Regions from separate parts of the Homo sapiens genome. Here all the other regions are linked to region 1. Evidence: fine-mapped expression QTL. A gene starts in region 1. Each other region holds a variant in brackets. All regions are shown on one strand. Distances are between the middles of the regions.

The links. PIP is the estimated chance that this variant, and not a neighbour inherited with it, causes the effect.
Region 2: its variant is fine-mapped to the expression of LRIG1 in whole blood (INTERVAL, PIP 0.95).
Region 3: its variant is fine-mapped to the expression of LRIG1 in whole blood (TOPMed, PIP above 0.99).

Annotation. Positions count from the first base shown.
Region 1 is chr3:66,497,817-66,505,557 of GRCh38, reverse strand. It overlaps LRIG1 (leucine rich repeats and immunoglobulin like domains 1), which reads left to right and starts at 4,536. Exons shown (of 19, transcript NM_015541.3): 1 at 4,536-5,368. The coding sequence starts at 5,151. RefSeq lists silencers at 4,167-4,826, 4,847-4,986, 5,027-5,106, 5,127-5,336 and enhancers at 4,439-4,939, 4,940-5,440.
Region 2 is chr3:66,381,732-66,389,472 of GRCh38, reverse strand. LRIG1 (leucine rich repeats and immunoglobulin like domains 1) reads left to right here. Exons shown (of 19, transcript NM_015541.3): 13 at 3,172-3,492; 14 at 5,201-5,482; 15 at 6,072-6,491; 16 at 7,075-7,200. Among named protein-coding and RNA genes, the nearest start is that of LRIG1, 120 kb to the left of the region's middle. RefSeq lists enhancers at 2,421-2,480, 2,511-2,590, 2,601-2,770, 3,231-3,330, 5,777-6,276 and 1 more. The variant A/C (reference allele first, on the strand shown) is at 3,715.
Region 3 is chr3:66,390,389-66,398,129 of GRCh38, reverse strand. LRIG1 (leucine rich repeats and immunoglobulin like domains 1) reads left to right here. Exons shown (of 19, transcript NM_015541.3): 11 at 1-18; 12 at 3,927-4,090. Among named protein-coding and RNA genes, the nearest start is that of LRIG1, 110 kb to the left of the region's middle. RefSeq lists an enhancer at 4,473-4,522. The variant A/G (reference allele first, on the strand shown) is at 4,224.

The DNA of each region.
Region 1 (7,741 bases):
GTGATGATGTAATTAGTCCATCCCATCATCATCACCGTCAGAGGTAAGGGACTGCCTCCTACAATGACCATTACTCCAGAATCTCAATCTCAGAATTATGAAATGCTCATACCTTTGACATATTTTTTTTCATCCTTTCAGTGAACCAGTAAACATTTCACATTCACAAGGCAAGGACAAGTGTCAAGGTTCTAGTTTGTGTTAGAAAGTGGACTCTAAAGGTTTTTGGCCCCTGTCGATGGTGCTCTGTGGAGGAGGGCAGATCCTGTGAAGGGTCACAGCTGAGCTGCAGGCAACAACCATTCTTGCTGTGGAACTGCAGCAGCTGCAGCTTGGCACTGTCTGGGCATTAACCAATATTCCAATAGCCAGAGATTGCACAAGAAAACTACCTCCACCAAAGGCAAATGTTGGAATGGGGGATGGGGAGATCTCAAAATCTTTCTCTTTTTATATTCTATTCCCAGACTCATTAGCCTCCTCTCTTACCTTCTCCACCCATCCATCTCCTTGACAAGATTATTGCGACGAAGGAGTTAATGAGTACACAGTTTTATTTTCCTTGGAAGAGAGATAGAAAACAGGCTCAAAGCAGGGCTGTCATCACCCTGCAAGTCTTCAGGGGTTTCATAGCTAATTATTAACCCTTTGTCACATTCCTGGACAAGAAACTTTCCTGCTGAAACAACCTGCTAAGATTTTCCATCTACATTATACATATGGGCTCTCAGTTTTTCAGAGTTAACAAATCAATAACACCTTGAAAACAATGAGATGTAAACAGTTTATAATGCCCCTTTGGTCCTTTATCAAAATGATCCTTCTTTACTCACTCAGCACCCAGGTCAAGTACCATTATCCTTGTTTTCTATTTTTCTTTTATATATATATTTTTTTTGAGATGGAGTTTTGCTCTTGTCACCCAGGCTGGAGTGCAATGGTGCGATCTCGACTCACTGCAACCTCCGCCTCCCGGGTTCAAGCGATTCTCCTGCCTTAGCCTCCCAAGTAGCTGGGACTATAGGTGTGTGCCACCATACCCGGCTAATTTTTGTATTTTTAGTAGAGATGAGGTTTCACCATGTTGGCCAGGCTGGTCTTGAACTCCTGATCTCAGGTGATCCCCCCACCTCGGCCTCCCAAAGTGCTGGGATCACAGGCGTGAGCCACCGTGCCCAGCCCCTTGTTTTCTATTTGAGAAAACTGAGGCTCCAAGACAGAAAATGACTGGTCAAAGGTTTCACCCATAACAAGGCCTGGCTGGAACCCAGCTCTCCTGAATGGTGACCTGGTGCTTTTTTAATGTATTGAACACAGTGTAAAATCTCACCTAACATTAAGAAAGCCCCTCTGAATCTCAGCATTCTTTAAAACCACTAAAGACCACCACCTAGAACTATAGCAAACTGGCACAAATTCAGTCCCCAGGAAGTTGTGTTAAAAAAAAAAATTCCTATGGTTAACCTTCTTTCTTGTTATTTTGTTATTTGCTTCTCTCCCCAATAGATTTCAGGCTATTTAGATTTTGGGTTCCTCTCTCAAGCATGATTAACTTAGGATGATTAACTGCTAGGGCTTCTGGAGTCAAGAGAGACCTGCAGAGATTCTCACTGGGGTTTGATTCCATGCTATCCCTGGGGTAGATGAAAATGAACTGGAAAATCTAAAATCCCCGGATGACTCATTTAAGGAATAAGCATTTAGAAAGATCAAAGTTGCAGTGTGAGGAAAATAAGGACCTACAGCACCCAAATCAACTGTTGCTCTGTGCTGAATGGACCAAGACTTGCACTTTTATGAGCAGAGACATAGATTCCCTTAGACATTTGCTGTTGTTGTTGTTGAGATCTCCTTCATCTTAGGTGGTGGCTGCAGATGAATTCCCCCCTGAGCTGGATATCACTGCTCTCCAAGTTCACACTCTCATTGCAATCACAAGCAGGTTGCTAGTATGTGGGCAAACTTCCATACATGGTATGGGGAGCAGACATGACTTCATGCTTTGCTGTAGACGAGAGGAACTGCCAAGGCTTAGGCGCCCTGTCCCCCCAAGTGTGCCCCGGCTTTGGAATCCTTTTCTCTGGCTGCATGGTAACCAGACCACAAGGGATGCTTTAGATTTGTGGGCACTCCCTCACCTTGCAGATTCTTAAATTCTATCCTCCAGAAAACTAAGATTCCAAAAAGGCATCTCACAAGTACACCCATACACATTTGAAAAAACATTTTACAAGAATTACCCACTTTTATAGTACTAGAAATGAGACAAACCTGAAAGATAATTTTAGGTCAGCATCTCAAGTAGTTCAATCAGTTCAATTCATTTTTTGCTGCATATGCTGTTTTATTGTGGGGTGGGGACAGGGAGGATCTGACAGTTTCATTTCAGGAAACGGCTGTGGGTATTCTGCATCAAATTACTGTTTTGTGTTCTTTGTGTAAAACTTAAACACTGACTGAGAGGACTTCATAAATTTAGGGTCTTTTTAATTCCATTCCCACTGCTTATTATTATTATATTTACCAAAAGGGATAGAACAAAAGGACATATTTCTTCTCGTCCAGATGGAAGGTGTATGTTTATTTGGATTACATATGAAACATAAAAGCTGGTTAAAGCTCTGGGTGGGATGGGTCAGGTGCAGCATTTTTCTGATAATATTTCTTGGGAATTAGATTTGAATTGATTTACCCACATATTTGAGCACTGCTTTGGGCATCACTGCTGAGATCATGCAAAATTAAACAAGAAAAAAATGAGGCGCAATGAATTCAGAAGGGGAAGAAGGAAAAAGGGGAGGAAGGGATAGGAAGATCACATTTTGGCTAAAGAAAAGAGGTGATCTTATGGCTGAGGGAAAGTTTAACACATTTAGTGCATCTCAATTAAAGCAAACCTCTTAGATTGTGTCGAAAATGGAATAAACCCTTTAATTTTTTTTTTTTTTTTGCCTTTTTTCCCTAAGGTTCAACTTCTCCTCTTTACCTCCCACCCCACCCCACTTCCATAAAACACAACTCAGATTTAATGTTCTGGAGCAAATGTTTTTCAACAGACTTGACCTGCTTAATCTTCCTGACAATGTGCGCAGTTATGTTAGTAATTTGCATACTCTTGGGAAGGGATATGAGACACTAGCAAACCAAAACGCCCAGAGGGCAGCTATATGTTACAGTGGTAATCTTTTTCTTTTTTTCTCAATGTGTGTATGTCTGCTTAATGTTACCACGTACTATCGTAACACACTACTACTATGGTCTGATCTTTAAGAGCAAAAGTTAGAAGCTTTGTTAACTATTATTTCTCCTTTAACTCTGTCTCTTACGAATACACAATGGCTTCTTGAAAATTATCTTAAAAAGACTCTGATTAAAACAAAAACCCAATGACAACAACAAAGCAACCCCTTTATCAAAGGCTGCAGCATTTCTAGAAGTACCCTTCAACTCACTAGCTGGGAAGGAGAGTGCACTTTTTTTTTTTTTTGAGACGGAGTTTCGCTCTGTCACCCAGGCTGGAATTCAGTGACAATTCAGTGACAAGTCTCTGCTCATTGCAGCCTCCGCCTCCGGGGTTCAAGCAGCTCTCCTGTCCCAGCCTCCCGTAGCTGGTATTACAGGTGTGCACCACCACACCTGGCTAATTTTTTTATTTTTCATTTTTAGTACAGACGGGGTTTTACCATGTTGGCCAGGCTGGTCTCGAATTCCTGACCTCAGGTGATCCGCCCGCCTTGGCCTGCCAAACTGCTGGGATTACAGGCGTGAGCCACCACTCCTGGCCGAGGGTGCACCTTTGAGACTAGGTTTCTGCAGCACACATTCATTTTAGTAATCAAGGACATATTGCTGGATTTAGGACGTGAAGAACAAGTCAGGAGCAGATGCTCCAGGCTGCTCGAGGAGGAAGGGGACCACGCCTAATGAAATAACCAAGGATGTCCCAGTCAGGAAGAAATGTGTTAAGTTTTAAACCTGTGTCTTCGCTTTTGGAAGGAACCTGGAAAACGGACGCGGGTTTGCTTCTAATCTGCAGTCCTGCTTGCAGCCTGAGGAGGACGTAAAAAGCCTTGGGGCCAGACAGCCCCAAAACGGGGGCGTTTTACCCTCTTAACTTTCTCTCCCCTTCTTGACGCAGAGGGCGTATCTTCACGCCTCCTTTCCCCAGCCCGCGTTCCCGTTCTCCAACAACAACCTGCGTGTCTCCTTTAAGAGGCGGGGGCCGTCCCTCCCTTTCTCCTCCCAGTCTCCCGCCCTTCACACCTTGGGTGGGAAAAGAGTGTGGGGGCGGGGTAGCCGGTGAAGCGGGAGGGGCGGGATCACAGCGAGCGCTCCAATGGCCCTCGAGGCTGGCCACGGTGGACTCCGGCAGCCAATGAGCAGCAGGCGGGGAGGCGTGGCGGGGCGCTGTTGCAAAGCATCCAACGTGGGCCAGCAGGCGGCCGCGGAGCGCGGAGCCTAGGGGGTGTGTGCGGGCGAGCGGCCGGGGGCGGGGCTTGGGGGACCGGCCGGGGCTGGGCCGCGGGGAGGCGAACAGCAAGCGGCTGATTGTTCGGCTGCGAGGTCGGCGGGACTCTTGCTGCGCGGAGGAGCCGTGCGGAACCCGAGGCTGCGCGCGCGCGCGCGCTCTCTGGCCGCGGCGTGGGGACAGCGAGGCGCACTGGGGCCTCCCAGCGCGGGGCCGGCCGCGCCGTCCAGCCCGAGGTCTACGGCTTTGCGCTCCGAGCCCAGAGGAAGATGCCTGCCGGCACCGAGCTCGGGCTGCGGGGCTGAACGCCTGTCTTCCAGGCGCAGCGGCAGCACTGCCCTCGGCCGGTGTCGGTAGCGGCACTCGGCGTGCCCCGGGCGGACGAAGAGCGCAGGCTGGGTACACCTTGCCCGAATCGGCGGAGTTCGCAGCTAGCGCGGGCGGGCCGGCCGGCCCGGATGGGCGCGGGGTTTGCGGCCCCCGCCGGGTGCTCCGGAGCGGCCCGGGCACCGGGGGCACGCTGAGTGCCGGAGCCGCGGCCGCAGAGAGAACTTGGGGCGGGGGCCATGCCCCGGTGCGGAGTCTAGAGCCGAGCGGAGCGCCCCGCGGGCCCGCCCGCGTCTGCGGCCGTTCGGGTCCTCACAGTCCCCGCGCCCGGAGTTCGCAGCGCGCTCCAGACAAGATGGCGCGGCCGGTCCGGGGAGGGCTCGGGGCCCCGCGCCGCTCGCCTTGCCTTCTCCTTCTCTGGCTGCTTTTGCTTCGGCTGGAGCCGGTGACCGCCGCGGCCGGCCCGCGGGCGCCCTGCGCGGCCGCCTGCACTTGCGCTGGGGACTCGCTGGACTGCGGTGGGCGCGGGCTGGCTGCGTTGCCCGGGGACCTGCCCTCCTGGACGCGGAGCCTGTGAGTGCCGCCCTTTCCGCCCTCTCTGCGCCCCGGGGCTCTGTCACTTGGGGATGGAGCGGCGGGGGTTCGTACTCAGGGAGGGGGTGCGGACTGGGTTGTGTGTGTGGAGTTGTGCGTGCTTGTGCGTGTTGGAAGACTGTCAGGTTGGAGTGGCGGAAGGGAGATTCTGCGTGGAGGTCCGGGGGAGTAGGCGTGCGAGAGAGCCTGGAGAAGAAGAGCGTGCCTCGTGGGGTCTGGAGACGAGCGAGCGTGGGTCGTAGAGATTTGGGGGTTAGCCAGCACGCGTCGTGCGGGCCATCTGGGGGTGAGTGAGTGGGAGTCTGGAGCTGAGTGTGTTTGCGGGTGGGTGGGTGGGAAACGTCTGGAGAAGAGTGTGAAGAAGTCTGTGGGGGTATGTGGGTGCGTTTCCTTTTCCTCTCCTGTAATCCAACTATTTGGTGTCTGAGCTCCTTGGTCTTCCAGTGGGTAATGAATGAAGGTGACTGTTGGGTCCAGTCTTTCGTTTACATTATTTATTAGTTGATAGTGTGTGTAGCCGTCTCCTGATCCCCGAAGACCGTGGTGGCCTGACTTGCCTCTCTGTGCGGGGCAGAAGGCAGTCTTCCCCCGAGGACCCCTGAGTTAGAGGGCTTTGACAGTTCCTGGCGACCTGTGAGTGCTGGGAGTTTGTCCTTTTACGCCTGTTTGGCATTTTACGGAACTGTGTTCCAGACCCTTCCTGTGTGTTCCCTGGGGCCCCATTGGGCTTGATGATCCAGTGGGGTGGGGCCCACCCTCAAGACTCTCTCCTCCATAAATGGTGCAAATGAGTTTTGGAGAAGTGCTGCTTCAGGAGAGGGTGCCAGGGGCTTGGCTGATTTAAGCTGTTTGTTTCACCCGAAAGAGGTTCTTTTCTGTGCTGTCAGGATGTGGGCTTATTAGGACTTAGTGGGACACTTCTTACAGGAGATTTGACAGGAAAAAAAAGGCATTAGACTTCTGTGTAAACATGGTAGAATAGAATAGTCTTCTTTTACTTCTAACAAATCTGGTGCATGAGTCAAATCCCGTTCAGTTATGGGTAATTAGCATCTCTGTAGAACCATTAGTACCTTTCCAGAAAAGGCCTAGCTTAAATAGTCCGCATTTCGGTTGAATAATTGGACATTTTTCCTAGAACATAGGAAAGGCACAGCAGTAACCTTAGGCATGACTATGGCTGTTTTAAAAAGAGAAAACTGGTGTCACAAGTTGTAACCAGCACCTGTGGCTTGATCGAAGAAAATGTGGCCTGTGTTCTGACTACCGTGAAGGGAAGAAAAGTTAATTCCTTTTAAATGTAAAGATCCTGTACCTCTCAAAATGGGGCACGAATCTTTAACTTGGCCCGAGACACTGCTCCATGAACAAGTACTACAGAGTTCTGAAGACAACCAGGAACCCTTTAGTTACAGTTAGGTTTTCAATATCTACTTCTTCTGTGGAATTTACTGAGTTAGTGAAAATCAGTGGTCGTAGGGTGGAGGCAGAGCTTTTGTGAAGTACTGGGAGATAGAGCCCAGTATTGTCCTTAGGTAGTCTCTTATTTAGTCTGGGGTATTGTGATTTTTCCCTTACATACGGTAGTTTTTTTTTTTTTTTTTAAATAGAATCATGTGGGCAAAATCAGATTAACTTCTTAAGTGTTCACCTGTTGGAAGAGTGACTCCCAATGCCATGTGTCAGTGGCATTGTGGGGAAAGCACTTAGTTCCACAGAAGTAACTTCCCAGAGAGGGCAGGGTGTCCTCTTATTTGCACTTTCCTATGGTCACAAGATCCACTTTGCCTTGCCCTTTAATTTTTGGAGCAAAACATACTGGTTATTTCTTTAGGCTTTCTGTTGCCTAGGAGTGACATTTCACATGGCATAAATACCTTCAAAATTGAAGTCCTTCTCTTTTACTCACACATTTGATGATCGAGAAATACCAAAGTGGGTATTTTGAGCATCAGTAGACTTTAGTATACTGATTATGGTGTTGACTGATTCGATTTTAAGATATGAGCAGCATGATTTCTGGTTAGTATGTAGCAACACAGTATGCAGTGCAAAATGGCTATCCTTTGAAAAATATTTGTGAAGTTTTCTTATTTCTGATTAAGGACAAATCAAGCAAATGTGTTCTTTTTTTCTAGACTTCAGACTTCTGAATTTAAATCATTAGTCTCCGTGAGTCTTATTCTGGAATTTCCATAAGAGTATTTATATGGTTTGTATTCCTGGCTAAGATTCAGCAAGACTTTAGGGGAGAAAGTGTCTGTATATGATATAATGAAATATCTTGTAGTTTCACCAAGTTTACACGCTCTAAGCCCACGGTGTCTAGAAAATGCTTTGAGCTAGTTTATA
Region 2 (7,741 bases), 120 kb after region 1:
GTGTCTCTTGTAGGCTATAGCTGGATCATAGTTTTTTTTATCCATTATGGTAATCTTTGCCTTTTGATTGGAGTGTTTAATTCATTTTCCTTTAATGCATTTACTAATAAGGTAGAGTTTGCCCCTTATTTCTTCTATGTGTCCTATCTTTTTGTTTCATTGTTTTTCCAATACTGACTAGTTTTTTTATTGAAAAGATATTTTCTGTTGTACTATTTTAATTCCCTGTTTTTTAAATACACGGGTATTTTTTAGTTATTTTCTTAGTTTTGCCCATAGGAATTAAAATTAACATCTTACAACAATCTAGTTCAAATAAATAATGAAATTAACTTCAGTAATATGCAAAAATTATGTTCCTATTAAGATCCAGTTTTATTCCTTTGTGTTACTGTTGTCGTACACATTACATTTTCATTAAGCCCATCAACACAGCCTTATAATTACTGGTTTATGTAGTTGTCTTTTAAATCAGGAGACGCGAGTTACAAAAATACACGTATCCTGTGTGTTGTATTACCTGTGTAGTTACCTTTAATGGGATTTTTTATTTCTTGGTGTGGATTGGAGTTGCTATATGATGTCCTTTCATTTCAGCCATACTAAATACTCTCCTGGATTTCTTGTGGGGCAGGCCTGATAACAGTCAACTTGCTCTGTGTGTGTTTAAAATAAAAACATCGGAATGTTTTAATTTCCCCTTCATTTTTGAAGGATAGGTTTTTTAATACATAGAATTCATAGTTGAACGTTTTTCTTTCAGTAATTTGAATATCTTCCTACTGCCTTCTGTTCTCTGTGGGTTCTGGTAAGAAATCAGCCGTTAATAATAATGAAGATCCCTTGAATGTGATGAGTTGCTCCTCTTTTGCGTTTTCAAGATTCTTTGTCTTTGGCACCTGACAGCTTGACTATGATGAATCTGCGTTTGGATCTTTGAATTTACTCTACTTGGAGTTCATTAAGATTCTTGGATGTGTGGCTGCACATTTTTCATCAAATTTGGGGCCATTGTTTTGCAGATACTTTTTCTCTTCCTTTTTCTTTCTTCTCCTTCTTGGACTCCCATGATTTGTATGTTGTTGTGCTTGATGCTGTCCCACAAGTCTCTGTGGTTCTTTTCATTTTACCTCATTCTTTTTTCTTTGTTTCTCAGACTACATAATCTCAGTTGACTGTCTCAAGTTCCCTGCCCCCTCCTTCTGCCAGCTCAGTTCTGCTGTCAAGCCCCTCTAGTGAATTTTTCATTTCAGTTATTGTACTTCTAAGTTTCAAAATTTCTACTTGGTTCATATCTATAATTTCTCTTTATTGCTATAAAATTTTCTCATACTTTATCCTTTTTTTTTTTTTTTTTTTTTTTTTTGAGACAGAGTCTTGCTCTGTCACCCAGGCTGGAGGGCAGTGGCGTGATCTTGGCTCACTGCAAGCTCCGCCTCCTGGGTTCATGCCATTCTCCTGCCTCGGCCTCCCTAGTAGCTGGGACTACAGGCACCTGCCACCACACCCGGCTAATTTTTTTTTTTTTTTTGTATTTTTAGTAGAGACAGGGTTTCCCCATGTTAGCCAGGATGGTCTTGATCTCCTGACCTCATGATCCTCCTGCCTCAGCCTCCCAAAGTGCTGGGATTATAGGCGTGAGCCACCCCACCTGGCCACTATCCTTCGATATTTTTTTTAAGACATGGTTTCCTTGAGGTGTTTGAATATGCCTATAATTGCCGATTTAAAAAGTTTATTTAGTGAATCTAAGTCTGGGCTCCCTCAGAGACAGTTTCTGTTGACTGCTTTTTTTCCTGTTTGAGTGTTTCATAATATTTTGTTGAAAATTGGGCATTTAAAATAAAATAATGTGGCAACTCTGGAAATTGGATATTCCCTTTCTCCTCCCCCAGGATTTGCTGCTGTTGCTGTTTATTGTTACAGCTTGCCTAGTGACTTTTCCTGGACAAAGGCTATATAAAGTCCGTCCCCTTAAGTCCCTGCTTGTTTAGTTTAGTGGTTAGCTAATGGTTGGACAGAGAAGTCACCACAACCACTGTCTCCTATCCTTTACCGACGGCTTGTGTGTTTGTGTTGGGGTGTGCCATCACTTCCTATTTGTGTAGACAGTCATGCTCAGCCACAGGTGACAAATGAGGACCCCCTCACGTCTTTCCTGGGTGTGCACATGGCCTTGCACCTGCATGTGGCTGTCTAGATCCCCAGGAATGTATTGGACCTTTTCAAAGCCCACCATTAACACTGTATTCCCCACATTTTCCTTTATAGTTTTTTGGCCAGCTGCTTGTTTGCCCCATGGGTATTGTCCCCTCAGACAGCTGCGCTGTTGAACAGTGGCTACTGATTGTTGTAGTCATGTGCCCTGGGGCTAGGGCTTCTCCTGCTCGGCAAACTAGATCAGGGCAAATCAATGCAAATCCTGTGAATGGGGCTTTCCGTGTTGCTGCCAGATAGGCCACATGGTGTCAGTTCTGAGGATGGGGCTTTTGGGGAGCCCATTCTGACCCTTGAGTGGTTGCTAGGCTGCTGGGTTTCAAGGCTACCATGGAGCTGGGGAGGGAAGAATGGGGCTTTGGATAAGTTAAAATACCACAAAGCTCACATTTCTGAGATGTTGCTATTTGCTTGAATCAACAATCCATGGATTGTTGTAAGCCTTTGGTTTTCCAGAATTCTGAAAAAGTTGCTTTTGACCATTTTTCCAGGTGTTTTCCTTGTTTTAATGGAGGTGCAGATTTTTGGAGGTCCTTATTCTGACATTTTGGAAGTGTTTTACACCCCCTCCTTTTGGAGTAAGGTTTGTGGGTAAGATCTCTGCAGTCATGACCAGTGGTGCCTGACTGTTTTGTGTGAAAGTCAGCAGGCAGAGCCAGTTGTCTTAAGGAAACTGCCGGCTGGCTGGTTTGAGAACTGAGAAGTGGTGGGTTAATTTCTAATCAAGGAGTGTGATCATAAAGGTGATCAGTACTCACAGACTTCTAATTAGATGAGGTCAGATGTCCATGGTGCAACTCTTACGGCATCTGGTTGGTGGGGCTGAGGATGCACAGGGACCTCAAGCTCTGGTTCCTGCTTGGTGTCTGTGTCAGTTTCTGTTAGCATGAACAGCAGCTGGTTCCTCTGTGTACCAAGAACCCAGCGCTTTACAGTTGACCCTTCTCTCCCCAGATGACTTCCTGAAGCCACAGATCATCACCCAGCCAGAAACCACCATGGCTATGGTGGGCAAGGACATCCGGTTTACATGCTCAGCAGCCAGCAGCAGCAGCTCCCCCATGACCTTTGCCTGGAAGAAAGACAATGAAGTCCTGACCAATGCAGACATGGAGAACTTTGTCCACGTCCACGCGCAGGACGGGGAAGTGATGGAGTACACCACCATCCTGCACCTCCGTCAGGTCACTTTCGGGCACGAGGGCCGCTACCAATGTGTCATCACCAACCACTTTGGCTCCACCTATTCACATAAGGCCAGGCTCACCGTGAATGGTATGGAAACACCATCTTTGTTATAGTACCAGAATCCTACAAAGCACACTCCTGATTGCCCTTTCAGCTTTCCATGTAGAGATGACTGAGACAGGACACACACATGCTTCTGTGGGGCACTGTTAAATCCTATTGTTGCCTGGGTTTGCCCCAGAGCAAGTTTTGCAGATTTCAAGGGTTATTCACAATGAGTTACTTGTTTTTGGTGAGTTTTAAAAATCT[A/C]GTTATTGGCCGGGTGCTGTGGCTCATGCCTGTAATCCCAGCAGTTGGGAGACTGAGGTGGGCAGATCACTTGAAGCCAGGAGTTCGAGACTAGTGTGGCCAACATAGTGAAACCCCGTCTCTACTAAAAATACAAAAATTAGCCAGGTGTGGTGGCACATGCCTGTAATCCCAGCTACTTGGGAGGCTGAGGCACAAGAATTGCTTGAACCCAGGAGGTGGACGTTGCAGTGAGCCGAGATCACTCCACTGCATTCCAGCCTGGGTGTCAAAGTGAGACTGTCTCAAAAACAAAACAAAAACTAGTTATTAAGTCAAATTGTGGAGAGCTAAGCCTTGTTTTGTCCAGTTCTTATCCTCTATAAGCCAAGAGATCTGGCTTCCAAATTCCAAATACCCCTTAGCCTGGGGAAGCTGCTGTTCTTTGAGTAGATGGCACAGCATTGGAGTCAGAGGCTAGCTACTGCTCCAGAGACTGTGGAGTGCAAGGCTGGTGTGAGCCCTGGCCTGAAAGACACAGTGTCCTGGCAGTTGACAGGTTTTTACTCATTAACCAGCCTTGGAGCTTGTCAAGGGGACCATGTGTTATTGTGTGTTTGGAGGAGGGGGGTGGGGAGTAGATAGCTTGAAGAGTTTACTGTCCCACCCCAGTAACCTAATGGGGTTATCCTGATTACTAACTCTCTAGTTAAAAAGAATTGGCTTGAGAATCATCAGAATGGTGGATCTGCTTTGCTCTTTAAGCCCCCACAGATCACAGCGAAACACCTTCTTTACCACACTGTAGTGGGGTTGTCTTGGCTTATTCCAAGTCCTCACAGCTTCCGAAAGACTCAGCTGTTTGTTAGACTCTCCCCAAAATTGACGTTGACAGGAACTCTGGTGGTGCCTGACACGTGGCTGGATGCGTCCCACTCTGTCAGGACATCGATCTTTAGGCTGAGCAAGCTAGCAAGCTGAATGCTTCCTGCCTGGGTATACGGCAGTGGGCAGGAACAGCCTGGGTGAACAACCATCCAAATGGATGAGCCATCCCATTCATCCCATGAACACCCATCCAAACGGATGAGCCATCCCATTGCTCTCCCAAGGTGGAGGCATGCCCACCTTCCCTCTGTAATTCCATCTCCACAGCCTCTCTCTTGGTGGGTAAAGCAGGCAAGCATCAGGCCTACCTAGTGTGGATGGGCACCCCCTGCAACTCCCGTATAGGCACTGCCATGTAGAGTAAAAGCCTTTGCTTTGAAGGGACTATAGCCAGCCTAGGGTGTACAATGCAAGGCTGATGGGATGGAAGTGTTCCAACTGTGGTGGGAGAAGCTGGGGGTTCCTGATTCACAGGTGGCAGGAGTGGTCCTGGGCAGACATTGGGAGAAAAGAAGTGAACTGGCACTGGGCACAGTGACAGGTAGGTGTTTGCCAGAGGACTTCCTGGTTTTGCATCTAGCTGTCCCGTAACCCGACCCTGTATACGTATGTTTTCCAGTGTTGCCATCATTCACCAAAACGCCCCACGACATAACCATCCGGACCACCACCATGGCCCGCCTCGAATGTGCTGCCACAGGTCACCCAAACCCTCAGATTGCCTGGCAGAAGGATGGAGGCACGGATTTCCCCGCTGCCCGTGAGCGACGCATGCATGTCATGCCGGATGACGACGTGTTTTTCATCACTGATGTGAAAATAGATGACGCAGGGGTTTACAGCTGTACTGCTCAGAACTCAGCCGGTTCTATTTCAGCTAATGCCACCCTGACTGTCCTAGGTTTGCCTATTGCTCTACTGTGTGTGTGTGTGTGTGTGTGTGAGCGAGAGAGAGAGACTCTCAAATGCTCTGTGTGGCCAGGGGTGGTATGCGTTGTGGGCCTTTCGACCCTGTTTGAAATTTGGGGCTGCTTTTTGAGTTGAGTTAATTTTTCTTAAACAAGTGTTTCTATCTCTTTAAAAGAAATGATAGCTGGTGAATTAAGAGTCTTCATAGGGTTTAGCTACAGAACATTTTAAGAATTGGACAGGATGGATGTGGGCTTGGTCAAGAGCTACAGAACATTTTAAGAATTGGACAGGATGGATGTGGGCTTGGTCAAGAATAAGGACACAGGCCTGACACAGGACAGTTAGGGAATAGCAGGGGCTTTTGTCAGCAGAGGTTCACTGTCCCTGTGGAAGCCACTCCCAGCATGGAGATGACTCAGTCAATGAGTTGAAGGGTCTTCTCCAAAGCTTGCCACTCTGAGACAGAATCTCAGATGCATCTCATTGATATGTTGGATTGTCCGTTGTCCAGAAGACCGGGCAGAGCCAGAGCAACGGAGGCCCTGAGAATGACTAAGATCTCTGTTGCTCTCTTGTAGAGACCCCATCCTTGGTGGTCCCCTTGGAAGACCGTGTGGTATCTGTGGGAGAAACAGTGGCCCTCCAATGCAAAGCCACGGGGAACCCTCCGCCCCGCATCACCTGGTTCAAGGGGGACCGCCCGCTGAGCCTCACTGAGCGGCACCACTTGACCCCTGACAACCAGCTCCTGGTGGTTCAGAACGTGGTGGCAGAGGATGCGGGCCGATATACCTGTGAGATGTCCAACACCCTGGGCACGGAGCGAGCTCACAGCCAGCTGAGCGTCCTGCCCGCAGCAGGCTGCAGGAAGGATGGGACCACGGTAGGCATCTTCACCATTGCTGTCGTGAGCAGCATCGTCCTGACGTCACTGGTCTGGGTGTGCATCATCTACCAGACCAGGAAGAAGAGTGAAGAGTACAGTGTCACCAACACAGGTCAGGCCCTGCCAGCGGAGCTGACTTTCAAGGAGGGAGGAATGGCAGTGATGCTGGGGAACTGGGCCGGGTTCCAGTGGCTTTTGAAAGAATTGCACTGTGTTCAGAACTCCTGAGGGTTTAGTCCCACTAATTCCATTTTAACTTTGAGGAACTTAACCTTAAACAGGAATACTCTCAAATTTAACCTTAAACAGGAATACTCACAAATACAAGTAACTGACGCACCATGCAGTTTTCCCTCTCCTTGCTAACTCAGAGGCCGCCTATGCACAGGCCCTGCTGCCACGTAGTAGGTTGTTCCTGAAACAGTGCGGTACTTCTGTGAGCCCCGGCTTTCCATCACTGGTCTCCACTTCTTGTGGCGTCTGGCATCTGCTGGCTGCGCTCTTCACGCTGGGTGTAGAGTAAAGCTGAGCAGGCTCTGGGAGGGCCTGTTGCGTACATGGACTCCATGTCATCTCTCTGCACAGCGCTGATGGTCGTCACTGGGAGGATCCCCTTTCTGAGCTTGACAGTGAACGTGTGTCTGCATTTCTTGTCACTGAGACCCTGGTGTTCTATTTGTTCTGTCTCCTTGCAGATGAAACCGTCGTGCCACCAGATGTTCCAAGCTACCTCTCTTCTCAGGGGACCCTTTCTGACCGACAAGAAACCGTGGTCAGGACCGAGGGTGGCCCTCAGGCCAATGGGCACATTGAGAGCAATGGTAAGGCCTCAGTAACTGTGAAGCAGAGCTCTGCTGTGACTGTGTCTCTGGGTGCTGGAGGTGGCCTCCAGGTCTTTACAGGGCAGGTACCTGGCATTAGATGGGGCAAACTTGGTGAAGTAGAAGGCGGTATGACTAAGGGCTGCTATTTTGGACCCAGTCTTCATGAGTTCTGCAAGGTTTTAAAGTCCTGTCCCCTCAGGAAGCCACTGGATTGGGCTTAGCATCTCCCTGGCAGGATAAAGTAGGCTTGCCTGGAGTAGCAGCTGGAAAGGGCATTACGGTGCATGAACCCAGCCAACCCATTCCTTACATGGGGAACGTGCCCAGGTCTGCTCTGTGATCCAGTCTTACACTGGAAAGCTGTCACCAGGATGAGGTACTTCCAACGGTGGGGGCCTCTGAGCACTTGCCTGAGACTGTAGAGGCTCACCCTGAGACAGCTGCTCATTTCACAAGGCCAGCCTGCCTGCTGGGAAGTAGTAGCAGAAAACACGCTGCTTGCCAGACCAGCAGCCCCACCGCTCTGAAGAACTTTTTA
Region 3 (7,741 bases), 110 kb after region 1:
GAAGAATCTTAAAGAGCTGTAAGTATCTGGATTCCCTGGGTCTGATTAATGGTAGTGGAGACTTTCAGAGTAAGAAACTTCTGCAATTGCATTATGCTCACTTGTTAAAAGTTCACATGGTACATATTTTGGATTTTGTGGGCCACAGAGTCTCTGTCATGACTACTTGATTGCATCATTGCAGCAGAAAGCAGCCATAGACATTACATAAGCAGGTGGGTGTGGCTATGTGCCCATAAAGTCACATTGACAGAAGCAGGCAGTCGGGCCGCAGGCTGAAGCTTGCTAACCACTATTCTAGGCAATGTGAAATATACTCTCCTCTATAAAGTGGATAATCACCCCTTCAATTATGTCAGGGCCAAGTTTTCATCTTTTGGGCTTGCTTACGATAAAGGCCTGTGTTGAGAGGGTCTACTTCAGAGCCTGGTGGGCTGTGAGCAAGGCAGAGCTCTGGAGGGGATGGGATGCTTAGGGGTGCAGTGGTGTCTGCCCATACCATTTCCAAGCTTTCTGGGCACGGTTCACAGGTGGTGGTGCTGCCACTGTGGACTTGGACTGTGGGCTCTTGGGTGACAAGGTTGGAAAAGCTTCCCTGTATCCTACTCTGGCAGGGGAGCTAGTCTGGGTCCTCAGGTGTAACACCCAAGTTTTCCTTTCTGGTTTTTTTTTTTTTTTTTTAGCTAGACATGAATCTGATTCTACAGCCAGTAAGTTCTAGCCATGATATCAGTTCCCTGAAGGGGTAACTTTTGGTTCCTAGAAGTGCTGACAGAATGGCAGATGCCACAGGACAGTCATCTTTGTGCCCTGACCTCATCCCCATTCCCCGAGGCCACTCTTGATGAACCCTCAGTTGGGGCAGGGAGGCTGGGACTGGGGAAATGAGGTGCATTCCCCATAGCTGGGAACTGAAGCGGGCCGGGTGACACCAGACTGAGTGAGGAGGGAAGGTGGCCTGGGCACTTGCCCTGTGATGTTCAGCATGCTGTGAGCCTCAGGCCTGCTGAATAGATACCGTCCTTGCAAGGGTTGGATCTTGGAGCGGGTGTCTGTGACGGGTTCATGGAGCTCAGGGCTCTGCAGACAGCTGCTCCGTGCCCAGGGCCTTCCCTCTTCCAGCCTCAGCAGCTCTGCCTCCATCTGTCGGGTGAGACGGAACATACAGAAAGGATTCCATGGCTCTCCTTCCAGAGCAGGGGAGGAGATGATTCCAGACCACCGTGGAAGGGAAGGCTGGACTCAGAGGTGGACTCGCAGTAAAGCAAGTGGAATGAAACATTGGTTGTAGAAGACAAGCGGTGGGGCACAGGAGCATTCACTGTGGAATTCTTTCACCTTTTCTGTCTTTGAAACTTTCAGATATGATGTCAGGACTGAAAAATACCTGATTCAATTTAAACGGGAAGAAGGTATTTTGAGAGAAGGAGGGAGGAGGATAAGATTTTCCTTGGGAAGTTGGGAGGAACTGGACCCTTCCAGAAGCTTGGACCTCCAGCGTGCTTCTGCATGGTTCTGGAGGCTCAGCCTCGGTCTCCTGCCTGGGTTTCCCATCGTTGCTGCATATACCTCGCTGGAGCCGGCCCTGTGCCCAGTCCTCAGATGAGAGAAATGGTTAATTCCACTTGGTCGTCTTTTTCTCCATCAGATCAAGTCAGGTTGTACTGTGCACTTAGTCATCCTCTGGGTAAATTTCCACAAGTGATGATTAGAAACACACTTTGAGTTGGAATCGTGAAAATGCACCATGTGAGCCAGCAAAGCCCTGGGATGGCAGCAGAAGGCAGTAGAGCCGATGGCGCTGTGCTCTCCACGGGTGGAAGAAGGGCGGCAGGAGCCTGCAGAGCCTAGGGGTTGGAATCCTCGCTACTGCCTGGCCCCAGGCCCTCCCCATGTATCCTCTCAGTCCTAACTTGCTGTTTAGGAACATGCTGTCTCCACCCTGAGTACCCACTGTCTTCCTGGAGTCTGGCCTCCTGTCTGAGGTGGGTTTCATGGTGGAAGAAGTAGGAAATCCTCAAAGGCGTTAGCCCCACACGTCCAGGGCGTGTGTAGGATGAGGCTTAGCCCTTTCTACATGTGTCTGATCAAAGATAAATGTCAAATTTGTTTTCCCGTTTGTTCCTGTGGTTCAAATGGAATATGTCCTTGTGTCCTGCACAAATGCTTAACGTCGCACAGGGATGGCCCAGCCTTCTCTCCTAGGCTTTCGTGAACAGTGCCCAGGCTGTTCTGCCTGACTGCACGGAAGTGCCCTCTTGCTGGGGAGCTGGAGGTGCTTCTGACAGCGGAGAGTTCTCCATCCAGGCTGAGTTCCCCCCATGCCTGGCGCAGCCAGCCCTGACCCCCATGCAGGGTGCACTCCTGGGAGCTGCCCTCCCCAAACACTGCATGGGAATTGACCATTTCCTCAGGGATGGCCGTTACAGCCCTTCCGCCACCTGCAGTGACTCCACAGTAGGACAGCCCTCCAGATGGCTCTCAGCAGAACGCTACCTGCCCGTGAAATAAAAATGCAAACTCTCATGCTGATTTTAAGATCTAATATGGGCCAGCATCCCAGTTATAATGGCCTTGAGATAAGTTATTTCTGTTTTTGGAAAAGCACTTTCCAAAATTATAATTATTTTAATAAGATGCCCAACTCATCTAGGGGTGATGGGGAACATGAGGAAGAGTGGATTTTACTTAATTTAGCCTTGGGTCATCTGCTTACACTTCATTCTTCCTTGCTGTGACAGTTTCTCTGCTCATTAGAAATCTGGAGAGAAACAGAAGAAAATGGAAGGCCAGTCCATTTGGTTGCTTTGTTGATGTCTGAGGACAGTGGTGGGTGGAGAAGGCAGCCAAAGTCGTGCTCTTGGCCTGCATGATGTTTTTGGAATTTCTGCGCATACCTGTGCCTCCTGTTTGTCACCATGTACCAGAGACAGTGTATTGCAGGGAAGCCTGTGTGCTCTCTTTCCCAGTCTTCCCTTATCGTGGGCCAGCCATCATTCTTTAGCTCACAGCTCTGAGGTCTTCCAGGAACAAGGCAGCTAGACTCTTGGTTGACTTATCTTCAAGTGACTCCTCAGGAAGGAATGTCCGCTGAGATGGCGATTCCGATTTCTGTTTAAAAAGCTTATCCTTAGTTGCTGAGAAATGAAAAAGAAAATATTCTCTGTTTTGGTTGGAGCCCCACAAAGCTAAAGTTGTGCATTCTCATGCTCCCTGGGCAGTGGCAATTAACTAACAAGCACTATTTAGGGAGCAGAGCCGAATTCTGCCGGCCCCCTGAAGAATACTGGTGCAAAGATCAAGGCACAAACAAGAGGGTGGCACAGTGACGGGGCTTATTACATTTGGAAGTAAGAAAACATGCAGCTTTGCCAAATGGAAAAGGAACAGCCATGAGGCAAAAGAGCCCTCCTCGGAACTTGTTGCAGAATTTGGATCAAAGTCTCAGGCCGAGTTTGGAAGCTCCAAGTAGTTTATCAGGAAAGTGGGAAAAACCAGAGGGGGGATGGTGGCAGCATAGCACTGTTGGATGTATCAGAGGTCAGGAGAGGTCAGAAGGCAGCCCAGGGTCACACAGGAACAGTGTCTGTCCCAGAACATGGCATGGATAAGCTCCACGTTGCTGCTGCTCCAGTTGCGGTCCTTGGGTCAGCAGCCCCAGCATGATACGTGAACTTGTTAGCAGAGTCGTGGGTTCCACTCCTGACCCACCCAATCAGCAACTGCATTTTTTCAAAATCTCCAGGTGGGTTATATGCACTGCCCTGGGAAATTGGAGAGGAAGTGTGAGAAAAACCATTTCCCCCTTCCAGCTTGCTGATGTTCACTTGAGAAGCTGATTGGAGGCGACTGATCATTGTGTGTGTGAAGGGAGTGTCCCTCCTTTGCGGCTGCACCTGAAGCATCCACTGTTGTGTTTCTTTCAGCCATATCAGCAGCGACAGCTTCCTGTGTGACTGCCAGCTGAAGTGGCTGCCCCCGTGGCTAATTGGCAGGATGCTGCAGGCCTTTGTGACAGCCACCTGTGCCCACCCAGAATCACTGAAGGGTCAGAGCATTTTCTCTGTGCCACCAGAGAGTTTCGTGTGCGGTAAGACTGTCTTTGTAACTTTTTCTCTCCTTCATGAAGGACAAGGAAGCCAGGAGGTACTCTTCATTATGGGAGTAATTCCTGTGATCAGAGTAAACCCCAGCCCGTGGTTACAGATCAGCTGCTGGATGCA[A/G]TTTATTTCTTGCTGAAACCACACACAGTATTTACCGTAGAGTTGCCTCATTATGTGGTTCTTGGAGGACATGCATTTAATCAGAAGGGAGTATAAGTTGGTTCAGTTACAAATCAGAATAATCAGTTACAGGAAGATAGTTCTGTTGTTTCAGAAGGGCTCTGGTGCCCGGGTTTAGCTGCGAATGTACTCCGCGTACGAGGCTGGCGTTTTAATGTGTGTTTCTTTCCGACCCCAAGAATGAAAGGTTAAATACAGGAAGAACAAGTCTCAGGAGAACAGTTGCTGTAGTAAAAATAATTCCTTGATGTTGACTTGTACTCTTGCTGTTTCTCCAAACCACTGAAATCTGCACTTGCAGCTTTACATTCTTTTTGCCTTCTGATTCCTGGAGCGTAGCTCTTGCCATCTTTTTGACTGGGAGTCGGGATCCAAGTTTGGTTGCAGAGAGCACAGAAAATGCTGAACAGCTGAAAACACACACGCAGGCTAGCTCAGACAGGACTGACACAGGCTCACGGTCAGGAAGACATGGTCAAAAAATGAGATGAATTTTGAGTTTTTCCTGTTTGCTTGCTCTAAGCAGGAGCAAGAGTGGGATTCCCAGGCCTGACTGGAACTGCTGGGCAGGTGTTAAGTCCCTCCTGCCTTTTGTGCTCACTGGTCTCCCTTGAGCCTTGAGATCCCTGCTGTGAGGATCCTAACCAGGAACTCACCCATCCATATGGCAACCCTTGTGGGCCACTTCTGTCTCCTACTTTCTGGCCATAGCAATAGCCATTGTGCCTGCTGGAGTAGCCAGTGTGCCTGCTGGAGGCAAGATGTGTGTGCCCTCTCCATGCATCCACCCCTACCTTCACCATCACCACTTTTGAGAACAGGCCTGCTGAACTTCCTCTGGATCCAGACCAGGGACACGTCTTAAACCCACTGCGAACATGGCAGCAGCTCTCCAAACTGACTTTTCATACCGATCTGTCTTATGGAGCCTTCTGTGTGGAATCTAATGCTCGCACAGCTCCATTATCCAGGCACAAAATGGCTGTATAATCCATTGTTCATTGGCCCATTGTCATCAAGTCCTTGACCCTTAAATTGTTTATAGACCTCCCTCAAATAAAGCTTTCCATCGCTCCCTCCCCTTTCCTGCCATAGGGCAGGCTTTCCCTCTGGGTGAGCCAGGTAGGACTTTGGTAAGTTCACCTAGCCCCCAGCCTGTGGCCCTGGCATATTCTGGATTGCAAGAGTTGTTTATTTCACATCTGTCATCCCCACCCCCACATTTTAGCTCAAGCTTCCCCCCCTCTAAAAACGTCAGGTGTTAATGGGAATCATGAAAACACTTGGCAGAAGATCAAGGTTTCAGGCTTTATGGGAGTCTCCCACTCCTTTTTTAAAAACGGAAACATAAGCACTCCACATCCACTAGGACAGCTAGAATCCAAAACTCAGATAATAACAAGTGTTGCTGAGGATAGGGAGAACCCTCCTACACTGCTGGTGGGAGTGTAAACTGGGGCAGCCACTTTGGAAAACAGTCTCGGCAGTTCCTCAGTTCAACATCCAGTTACGACATGACCTGGCAGTTCCACTCTTGGGTGTATACCTAAGAGAAATGAATGTATATGTTCACACAGAAACTTCTTCATGAATGTTCATAGCAGCATTATTCATAATGGCCAAAATATGGGCACAACCCAGGTATCAGTGGATGACTGGATAAACAAAAGGTGGTATAGCCATACAATGGAATATTCATTAGGCTGTGAAAGCAATCAGTAGTCCTGCAACATGAATGAACTTTGACAATGTCATGCTAAGTGGAAGAAGTCAGCCACAAAAGACCATTAGATTATATGATTCCATTCATAGAAATGTCCAGAATGGGGAAATCTGTGGAGGTAGAGATTAGGTTAGTAGTAGTTTAAGGATGGGGAGGGATGGAAAGAGAGGGGTAATAGCTAAAATGTACAGCATTTCTTTTTGAAGTGATGAAAATGTTGTAAAATTGACTGTAGTGATGGTTGCCCATATTGGTGAGTATACTAAAAACCATTGAATTGTATACTTTAGATGAGTGAGTTGTAGTGTAGATGAAGTATTCTCAATAAAGCTGCTTTTAAAAAGAAATATAATTTATATATCATAAAAATTTACCCCTTTAAAATATATAAATTGATGGTTGTTATAATAGTCACAACTGTGTAACCATCACTATTATCTAATTTTAGAACATTTTTATCACCACTAGAAGGATCCCCATACCATTAGTAATCACTCCCTATTCTCTGCCCCCAGGCCCTTGATAGCACTAATCTCATTGTGTCTCCATCATTTGCCTATTCTGGGCATTTAATATAAATGGAACCATACAGTATACGGTCTCTTGTAACTGGCTTTTCTCACTTAGCATAATTTTTAAGCATGTATCAGTACTTCATTCCTGTTTTTCATGGCTGAATAAATGGGTTTACATTTTATTTATCCGTTTATCAGATGATGGACATTAGATTGTCCCCACTTTTTGGCTATTATGAATAATGCTGCTGTGAAAATTCATATACAGGGTTTTGTGTGATTCTCTTGGGTACAAACCTAGGAATGGAATTGCTGGGTCATACGCTAACTCTGTGCTCAGCTTTTTTGAGGGACTGCCAAACTGTTTTCCAGAGTGGCTTCATGATTTTACATGCCCATCACCAATGCATGAGAATTCCAATTTCTCCCCATTTTTGCTAGCATGTGTTATTAACTGTCTTTTTTATTTTGGATGTACTCGTGAGTGTAAAATAGAGTCTCATGGTGGTTTTGATTTGCACTTCCCTAATGATTAATGATGTTAGGCATGTTTTCACCTGCTTATTGGACATACATATATATATATATCTTCTTTGGAAAAACAGCTATTTAAATCATTTGCCAGTATTCATTTGTCTTTTCAATGTTTAGTTGTAAAGTTCTTTATGTATTCTGGATATGAGACCTTCATAAGATACATGTTGTGCCAATATTTTCTCCCAGTCTGAGGGAGGGCTATTTTTCATTTTCTTGATAGTTGAAATGCAAAAGTTTTTAATTTTGGTGAAGTTCAATATCTCTATTTTTTCTTTTATTACGTATGCTTTTGATGTCATATCAAAGAAACTATTTGCCTGAGATAAGGTCACAAAGATTTCCTCCTTTATTTTCTTCTAAGAGTTTTATAACCTTAGTGTTACAAAGCCCTTTGATTTTATTCTTTTTCAAAATTGTTTTGTCTATTATGGATCCCTTGCCATTTCCTTACAATTTTTTGGATCAGCTTGTCAATTTCTGCAGTAAAGGAAAGTGGGATGTGGGTTGCATTGAATCTATAGACTAATGTGAGAAGTATTGCCATCTTAACAGTATTAAGTCTTCCCAATCCATGAAGATGGGCTGTCCACCCTTTTTTCTTAGCTTCTTAAAAATTTCTTTCAGTCATGTTTTGTCACTTTCAGTGTACACATCTTCAACTACTGTTAAAGGTATTTCTGTTT